Linked DNA regions of Homo sapiens. Changing the gene in region 2 together with the main gene of any one other region gives a genetic interaction. Each region holds a gene or a part of one and is shown on either strand. Other genes may lie near its edges.

Region 1 (3,812 bases), on a different chromosome or scaffold from region 2:
TAGCCAGGGTGGTCTCCATCTCCTGACCTCATGATCCACCCGCCTCGGCCTCCCAAAGTGCTGGGATTACAGGCAGGAGCCACCAAGCCCAGCCACTTTTGTCATTTTTGTATGGTTATTCTATTTAAGGCAATTGGTTCTCCATCAATTTAGTGATATAAACTCTGCTCACATAATTAATTTTATATGCCTTTGAATAGACACAGGGTAACTCTGGAAGGATAGACAAGAAACTGGTGACAGTGGCTGCCTCTAGTGAGGGGAACTCAGAAGCTGGGGACAGGAATGGATTGGAAACTTAGTTTTATCAGTTTACCCTTTTGTATATTTTGAACCTACTCAAAAAATAAGTAAATCTTAGTTTAAAAATAAATTTAAAGGCCAGGTGTGGTGGCTCATGCCTGTAATCCTAGCACTTTGAGAGGCCGAGGCAGGCGGATCACGAGGTCAGGAGATCAAGGCCATCCTGGCCAACATGGTGAAACCCCGTTTCTACTAAAAATACAAAAAATTAGCCAGGCATGGTGGCACGCGCCTGTAGTCCTAGCTACTTGGAAGGCTGAGGCAGGAGAATCGCTTGAACCCGGGAGGTGGAGGTTGCAGTGAGCCGAGATCACGCCACTGCACTCCAGCCTGGGTGACAGAGAGACTACATCTCAAAAAATAAATAAATAAATAAATAAATAAAAATAAAAATAAATAAATAAATAAATTTAAGCAAATAAAGACTTACAGGTAAGGTTTTGGGTAAGGGAATATTGTGAAGATGGTGGTCCAGGGCCTGGGCTGGCACACATGGGCCCTTCCCCTCAGCCCTGGCTTTCCCTGGCCGCCCCAGGCTCCCAGTATCAGGTGCAGGGGAGGAGAGGAAGTAAAGGGTGCCATACTTACGTCCTGACTGACCTGTAAAGACACCGTATGGTAGCTGGCAGGCACGCCTTCGTCCTCATCATCATCACTCTGCCCGCCCCGAGAGGCATGTTGGCTGGAGGTTCGAGGCCGGCGAAGCATTGATCCCTCTTTGGATTTCTTCTTGAAGCGGTTCCCTTTGCTGTCATATTTGTGACTCTTGCCACGTTTCTCCTGGGACTTGCATCCTGAGCAGAGCCAGACTCAGGTCACATTTCTGTGTCTATATAGGCATAGATACCCTGCCTTTTCTCCCCTCTCAGCCTCTCCCCTGCATAATTGCATGGCTACTCCCCAGCTGCCCCCTCATCAGCTGACCCACCGCCATTCAGACTGGCCTCCACAAAGATCCGGAGAGTCTTGACGCAGAGCTCAAAGTTGTCAGGTGTGATGTGGGCAGCATCACGCACAATGAAGGACAGCGATTCCACACACTTAAGCAGAGACTTAGTGTCGTGTGGCCCCAAATCCAGTCCCACTGTTAGGCTGTATTGATTGATCAGGGGTGAAGGGCCTGGGCGGCTGGGCCCTGGCTTGGAGTTATCAACGTCATCCTTCCCAACCTGTAAAGTACACAGAGGAGCTGGGGACACAGGCTTGGCCCCTGTGTGAATGTCCTTGCAGAGGACCAGGAATTCTTCCCACAGGTCAAGCAGGAGAGACTCAATTGCTGCCCATATTGTCACTCACCACTAACCAACCACTGTTGACCACATCGGCATCTGTGGCTGATCGGTGTATCTTGCCCGGCCTGCCATGGTCAGTGTAGACCTCTGAGTCGGAAGTGTACCCTCGATCCAGGCTCACGTCATTCTGATGGTAGGATGGGAGCTCACTATCTGACTGGGCCCCTATGGTAGGCAGGGAGAAGGGCAGAGTCAGGGTGGGGATGGGGCACTGGGATGAGGGATAAATCAGGCTCTCAGAAAAAAGATGCTGAGGCCTGGCCTCCCCTCTCTCTGGCATAGTTTAATTTCTGTCACCAGAGGGCCAAAGGATGGCCGGAACAGTTTCTCTGTTGACCAAATAAGGTGGCAGGCTAATCTGGGTTCCTGATGGCATCTAGTGGCAGCTGTAGCACCACTCTAGGGAGTGGTGGCAAGGACAAATAAGCAATGCAGAAGGCTATGAAGCCAGGCTTTCCACTGTCCTGAGGACTGTTTTCCCAGTTTCTGGGATTTAGTGATGTATCGATTTAGTGATATAAAGTCTGCTCACAGAATTCTATTTTCCCAGAATTCTGGGAAAACAGTCCTCGGGACAGCTCAGAAACAGAAACTGGGAAACAGTCCTCAGGACAAATCAGTCCTCAGGACAGTAGGAAGCCTGGCTTCACAGCCGTCTGCATTGCTTATTTGCCCTCATGCTATTTAACTTATGGGTACTAGCCAGCGGGCACTGGAAGCTCTGGAAGTGATGGCAGGAGCCAGGGCTGTTTAATCTGCTGAACACAGTAACCTGTGTTTTGTTTTCCTGTCCCAACTCCTGGGGTGTAACTGTTTATCTGCCAGCCTGAGTCTCCCTGGGAAAGGGCTTACCGGCATCAGGTGCATCTGCCCTGGCTGTGGCCTGCAGAGCAGCTGGAGGCTTCACACCTGAGCCGATGCACTCCAGCAGTGTGAAGAGTGTGGCCCAGTCATCACCTGAGTGGATGTTGGCTGCATTGGTCTTCAGGAGTTCATGGAGCCCATACGCAACCTGGTGGCTGACTCGGGATAGCACACTGGGCTTCATCAGTAGCAAAATGCGCAGGGAGAGCAGCACCTGGAGTGGGGTTAGGGCAGGGAGCGGGGAAGCGGGGAGCTGTGTGGGCACACAGCTTCCTGTCTAGTTTTCTTTCCCACCAGTCTCCTTAGGCCAGTGAAGACAGTTTGGCTAGGACCCAATTTAGGATACTGCTCTGGTCTTTTTTTTTTTTTTCAAATAGAAATATATTAATTATATTATTTGAGACAGGGTCTTGGTCTGTCTCCCAGGCTGGAGCACAGTAGCACAATCACAGCTCACTGCAACCTGAAACTCCTGGGCTCAAGTGATCCTCCTGCCTCAGTCTCTGGAGTAGCTGGGACTACAGGTGCATGTGACCACACCTGGCTAATTTTTTTTTTCTTTTTTGGAAAGATGGGGTCTCGCTATGTTGCCCAGGCTGGTCTTGAACTCCCAGGCTCAAGCGATCTTCCCGTCTCAGCCTCCTGAAGTGCTGGGATTATAGGCATGAGCCACTGCACCCAGCCTCAAATACAAATTTTTATTGAGAAAATTATAGGCTCATATGCAGTTGTAAAGAAATAATACAAAAAGGTCCCTTATACACTTTGCCCAGTTTATCCCAATGGTAACATTATGCAAAACTATAGTATAATATCATAATCAAGATACTATCTGATCTTATTCAGATTTCCTGTTTTACTTGCATTTTTGTGTGTATTAATTTCTATACAATTTTATTACCTGTGTAGGTTTGGGTATCCACCACAAAACAACATACTGAACAGTTCCACCACAACAGTATCCCTCATGTTGCCTTTTTCTTTTTTTAGAGACAGGTTTTGCTCTGTCACCCAGGCTGGAGTGCAGTGGTATGATCATAGCTCACAGCAGCCTCAAACTCCTGGGCGCAAGTGATCCTCCTGTCTCAGCCTCCAGAGTAGCTGGAACTACAGGCATGCACCACCATGCCCAGCTCATGTTGCCCTTTTATAACCACACCCACCTCCTCCTTCCTGCCCCCATCCCTAATCCTTAGCAATCTGTCTTCAAATTCTTTTTTTTTTTGAGATGGAGTCTTACTCTGTTGCCCAGGCTAGAGTGCAGGCAGGATCTCAGCTCACTGCAACCTCTGCTTCCCATGTTCAAGTGATTCTCCTGCCTCAGCCTCCCAAGTAGATGGGATTACAGGTGCG
Region 2 (4,584 bases):
CTTCAGGGGTATCTATTACAGAGTTTTAGCAGAAATAAAGAAATGAACTAAGACCAAACTCACAAGAGATAATCAAATACAGCAATTAAAATTACCAGCCATTTTTTTTTTCAAAGGATAGTGGTCCATGTTTCCTTTTTGGCTGTTGTATTCTGTGGTTCTGGTTGCTAAGGAAGTATTAATAAATATGAATTGAATATGTTGCCTGCTTGGAAGCATAAAAGAGAGTAAATAGTTCTGGGGACTGAGCTGCTTCTCTGTGAGTTTAGTTTGCCCCACACCAGACATGTATGTACGCAGCACTGCCCAACTTTTACATAAGATCTCAGGTTGATGGTCTACATAGTACTGAACAATAGGAGAACCCTGAAATATCTGTCAGGCTGGGCGCAGTGGCTCACGCCTGTAACCCCAGCACTTTAGGAGGCCGAGGCGGGCAGATCACTTGAGCTGAGTTTGAAACCAACCTGGGCAACACGACGAAACCCTGTCTCTATAAAAATATGCAAAAATTGGCCGAGCACGGTGGCTCACGCCTGTAATCCCAGCACTTTGGGAGGCTGAGGCGGGCGGATCACAAGGTCAGGAGATCGAGACCATCCTAGCCAACATGGTGAAACCCTGTCTCTACTAAAAATACAAAAAATTAACTGGGCGTGGTGGCACACGCCTGTAGTACCAGCTACTAGGGAGGCTGGGGCAGGAGAATCGCTTGAACCCGGGAGGCGGAGGTTGCAGTGAGCCGAGATTGCGCCACTGCACTCCAGCCTGGCGACAGAGTGGGAATCCGTCTCAAAAAAAAAAAAAATTTAGCTGGGCGTGGTGGTGCGAGCCTGTAGTCCCAGCTCCTCGGGAGGCTGAGGTGGGAGGCTCACTGGAGCCCAGGAGGTTGAGGCTGCAGTGAGCCGAGATCGCACTACTGCACTCCAGCCTGGGCGACAGAGCTAGACCCTGTCTCAAATAAATAAATAATAAAAATCTAAGACTACGATAACCCTACAGTTGGCCCGCGGGGCATTCAACCTTCCATGGATTGAAAATATTCGGGAAAAATAAAGATAATAAAACATAATACAAATAAATACAGTATAACAACTAGTTCCATAGCACTTGCATTGTATTAGGTATTATACTTAATCTAGGGGATGGTTTAAATATCTGGGAAGGTGTATGCAGGTTATATGCAAACACTATACCATTTTACATAAGGGACTTGACCGTCTGCGGATTCTGGTGTCTACGGGGTCCTGGAACTAATCCCCATTTCATGAGAGGGGATGACTGTACACACGTCAGTGTGTATTAGGCCATCAAAACGCCTCCGGGAAATTCTCGGGTTATTTTGAAAACCCCTCCCCTCCCCAAGACCTTTAACCTAGAGGGCTGTTGGGGCGGTCTCCTAGGAGACCACACAGAAACGACTGCGCATGCGTGCATTCCCCCCCCCCCCCCCCCCCCCCCCCCCGCCCCGGCTGATGCAACCTCACGCTGCCGTGCGGCTCTACCTCGAGTAAGGAAGCCGACAGGGAAATCTGGCAAAACCAATCGGCGGCCACACGGAAGTGGGCGGAAAGGCCCGCCCCCCGGGGATTTTGCGAGTGACGTTGGGCGGCGCGGCGCTAGGGACGTAGACGCCCAACAGTCCTGCGTCTCTTCCGGCGTCTAGGGGGGTGTCCTGCCGGCGCGCGGGCCCTGCGGCCATTTTGGGCTTCGCTTCCACCGCACCAGCCGGCCTACCCAGTCCTTCCGGTATCGCGTTGCTCAGGGGCTTTTCAACCCTCTGTCAGTCGGAAAACCATCGCCGAGGCCGTGGGGGGACTCCTATCCATGGTGTTGAAGCGTCGAGCCGACTAGGGAACCTCCTTCCCCGCCAGGATGGAAGTCGCATCAGTCGCCGCCTATTGCGCGGGCTGTTCTTCCCTGTGTTCTGCCGCCCGCTGCCGCATTCGCTGCCCTCTGTGGCTTTTCTGCTGGCTCGAAGATCGGCCTGGAGCAGCGACGCCACCGCTGGGCAAGGCCGAGACTCTGTAGGCTTCCTCCGAATCCCGTCGACCTCCAGCCGCTGAGCGCCGCGGCCCTACCTGAGAGACTGTCAAGAAAAAGGAGATGGAGCCGGGGACAGGCGGATCGCGGAAACGGCTTGGCCCTCGGGCGGGCTTCCGGTTCTGGCCACCCTTTTTCCCTCGGCGATCGCAAGCAGGCTCTTCTAAGTTCCCGACGCCTCTTGGCCCGGAAAACTCCGGGAACCCCACACTGCTTTCCTCTGCCCAGCCCGAGACTCGGGTCAGTTACTGGACGAAACTGCTCTCCCAGCTCCTTGCGCCGCTCCCCGGATTGCTTCAGAAGGTGCTAATTTGGAGCCAACTTTTCGGTGGAATGTTTCCGACCAGATGGCTAGATTTTGCTGGAGTCTACAGCGCCCTGAGAGCCCTGAAGGGACGGGAGAAACCAGCCGCCCCCACAGCGCAGAAATCTTTGAGTTCGCTGCAGCTCGACTCCTCAGACCCCTCGGTCACCAGTCCCCTTGATTGGCTAGAGGAGGGGATCCACTGGCAATACTCGCCCCCAGACCTAAAATTGGAGCTTAAGGCCAAGGGAAGTGCTTTGGACCCTGCAGCACAGGCTTTTCTCTTAGAGCAGCAGCTGTGGGGAGTGGAGCTGTTGCCCAGTAGCCTTCAATCCCGTCTGTACTCTAACCGGGAACTTGGCTCTTCGCCCTCTGGGCCTCTAAACATTCAACGCATAGACAATTTCAGTGTGGTATCCTATTTGCTGAACCCTTCCTACCTGGACTGCTTTCCTAGGCTAGAAGTCAGCTATCAGAACAGTGATGGAAATAGCGAGGTAGTCGGCTTCCAGACACTAACCCCAGAGAGCAGCTGCCTGAGAGAGGACCATTGTCATCCCCAGCCGCTGAGTGCAGAACTCATTCCGGCCTCGTGGCAGGGATGTCCACCTCTTTCTACGGAAGGCCTACCAGAAATTCACCATCTTCGCATGAAACGGCTGGAATTCCTTCAACAGGCTAGCAAGGGGCAAGATTTACCCACCCCTGACCAGGATAATGGCTACCACAGCCTGGAGGAGGAACACAGCCTTCTCCGGATGGATCCAAAACACTGCAGAGATAACCCAACACAGTTTGTTCCTGCTGCTGGAGACATTCCTGGAAACACCCAGGAATCCACTGAAGAAAAAATAGAATTATTAACTACAGAGGTTCCACTTGCTTTGGAAGAAGAGAGCCCTTCTGAGGGCTGTCCATCTAGTGAGATACCTATGGAAAAGGAGCCTGGAGAGGGCCGAATAAGTGTAGTTGATTACTCATACCTAGAAGGTGACCTTCCCATTTCTGCCAGACCAGCTTGTAGTAACAAACTGATAGATTATATTTTGGGAGGTGCATCCAGTGACCTGGAAACAAGTTCTGATCCAGAAGGTGAGGATTGGGATGAGGAAGCTGAGGATGATGGTTTTGATAGTGATAGCTCACTGTCAGACTCAGACCTTGAACAAGACCCTGAAGGGCTTCACCTTTGGAACTCTTTCTGCAGTGTAGATCCTTATAATCCCCAGAACTTTACAGCAACAATTCAGACTGCTGCCAGAATTGTTCCTGAAGAGCCTTCTGATTCAGAGAAGGATTTGTCTGGCAAGTCTGATCTAGAGAATTCCTCCCAGTCTGGAAGCCTTCCTGAGACCCCTGAGCATAGTTCTGGGGAGGAAGATGACTGGGAATCTAGTGCAGATGAAGCAGAGAGTCTCAAACTGTGGAACTCATTCTGTAATTCTGATGACCCCTACAACCCTTTAAATTTTAAGGCTCCTTTTCAAACATCAGGGGAAAATGAGAAAGGCTGTCGTGACTCAAAGACCCCATCTGAGTCCATTGTGGCCATTTCTGAGTGTCACACCTTACTTTCTTGTAAGGTGCAGCTGTTGGGGAGCCAAGAAAGTGAATGTCCAGACTCGGTACAGCGTGACGTTCTTTCTGGAGGAAGACACACACATGTCAAAAGAAAAAAGGTTTGTTTCTTGTCTTTTAACATGCCTGATATGTTCTGACTGTTTTTATATGCTTAAATATAGCAGCATGACTTTGGAGGCTTAGGAGTGCATGTATTTTTGAGGAAGGCCTCTAAATTCATATACTTGGATTGAGAAATATGTAAATGACCCTTCTCCTCCTGTCCCTCACCCCCCACCCCAATGCACATTGTTGCTGTCCAAAACGAACATACCAGTGTGTAGATGTTAGCAGGAAAGTGCCATTTTTATTTGGGTTGGTAGTTCTGGACTGTTTCCTTACAAGCTTCAATTTTTCACACTTTTTAACGGACTATTAAACTTTGTGTGTACACGATTTAATTTTTCTAGAGATTGAAAAGGTCCTGTTACAGCCATAGAGTTTTAAAATGATTTTAAATGTATGTTGTCTGCAAATACTTAATATTTTTTTTGCATATAACAAGAGTGTCTTCATTCCTGTCCATTACAACCCAAAGGGATGATGATATCAAGTAGCAAGTCAGATTTATCTGGTCCAATTGGCCATGAAATTAAATAGTAATTTCACTGGTTTTG

The links.
Region 1: changes in PPP1R15B (region 2) and GBF1 together harm fitness more than expected from each alone (negative genetic interaction), as found in Homo sapiens cells (one study listed by BioGRID).

Annotation. Positions count from the first base shown.
Region 1 is NC_000010.11:102,374,220-102,378,031, reverse strand, and holds part of GBF1 (Golgi-specific brefeldin A-resistance guanine nucleotide exchange factor 1), read right to left. Parts: intron 2,674-3,812; coding exon 2,448-2,673; intron 1,761-2,447; coding exon 1,600-1,760; intron 1,473-1,599; coding exon 1,232-1,472; intron 1,098-1,231; coding exon 892-1,097; intron 1-891. UniProt on the Homo sapiens protein: Guanine-nucleotide exchange factor (GEF) for members of the Arf family of small GTPases involved in trafficking in the early secretory pathway; its GEF activity initiates the coating of nascent vesicles via the localized generation of activated ARFs through replacement of GDP with GTP.
Region 2 is NC_000001.11:204,408,934-204,413,517, reverse strand, and holds the start of PPP1R15B (protein phosphatase 1 regulatory subunit 15B), read left to right. Parts: upstream 1-1,700; 5' UTR 1,701-2,106; coding exon 2,107-4,026; intron 4,027-4,584. UniProt on the Homo sapiens protein: Maintains low levels of EIF2S1 phosphorylation in unstressed cells by promoting its dephosphorylation by PP1.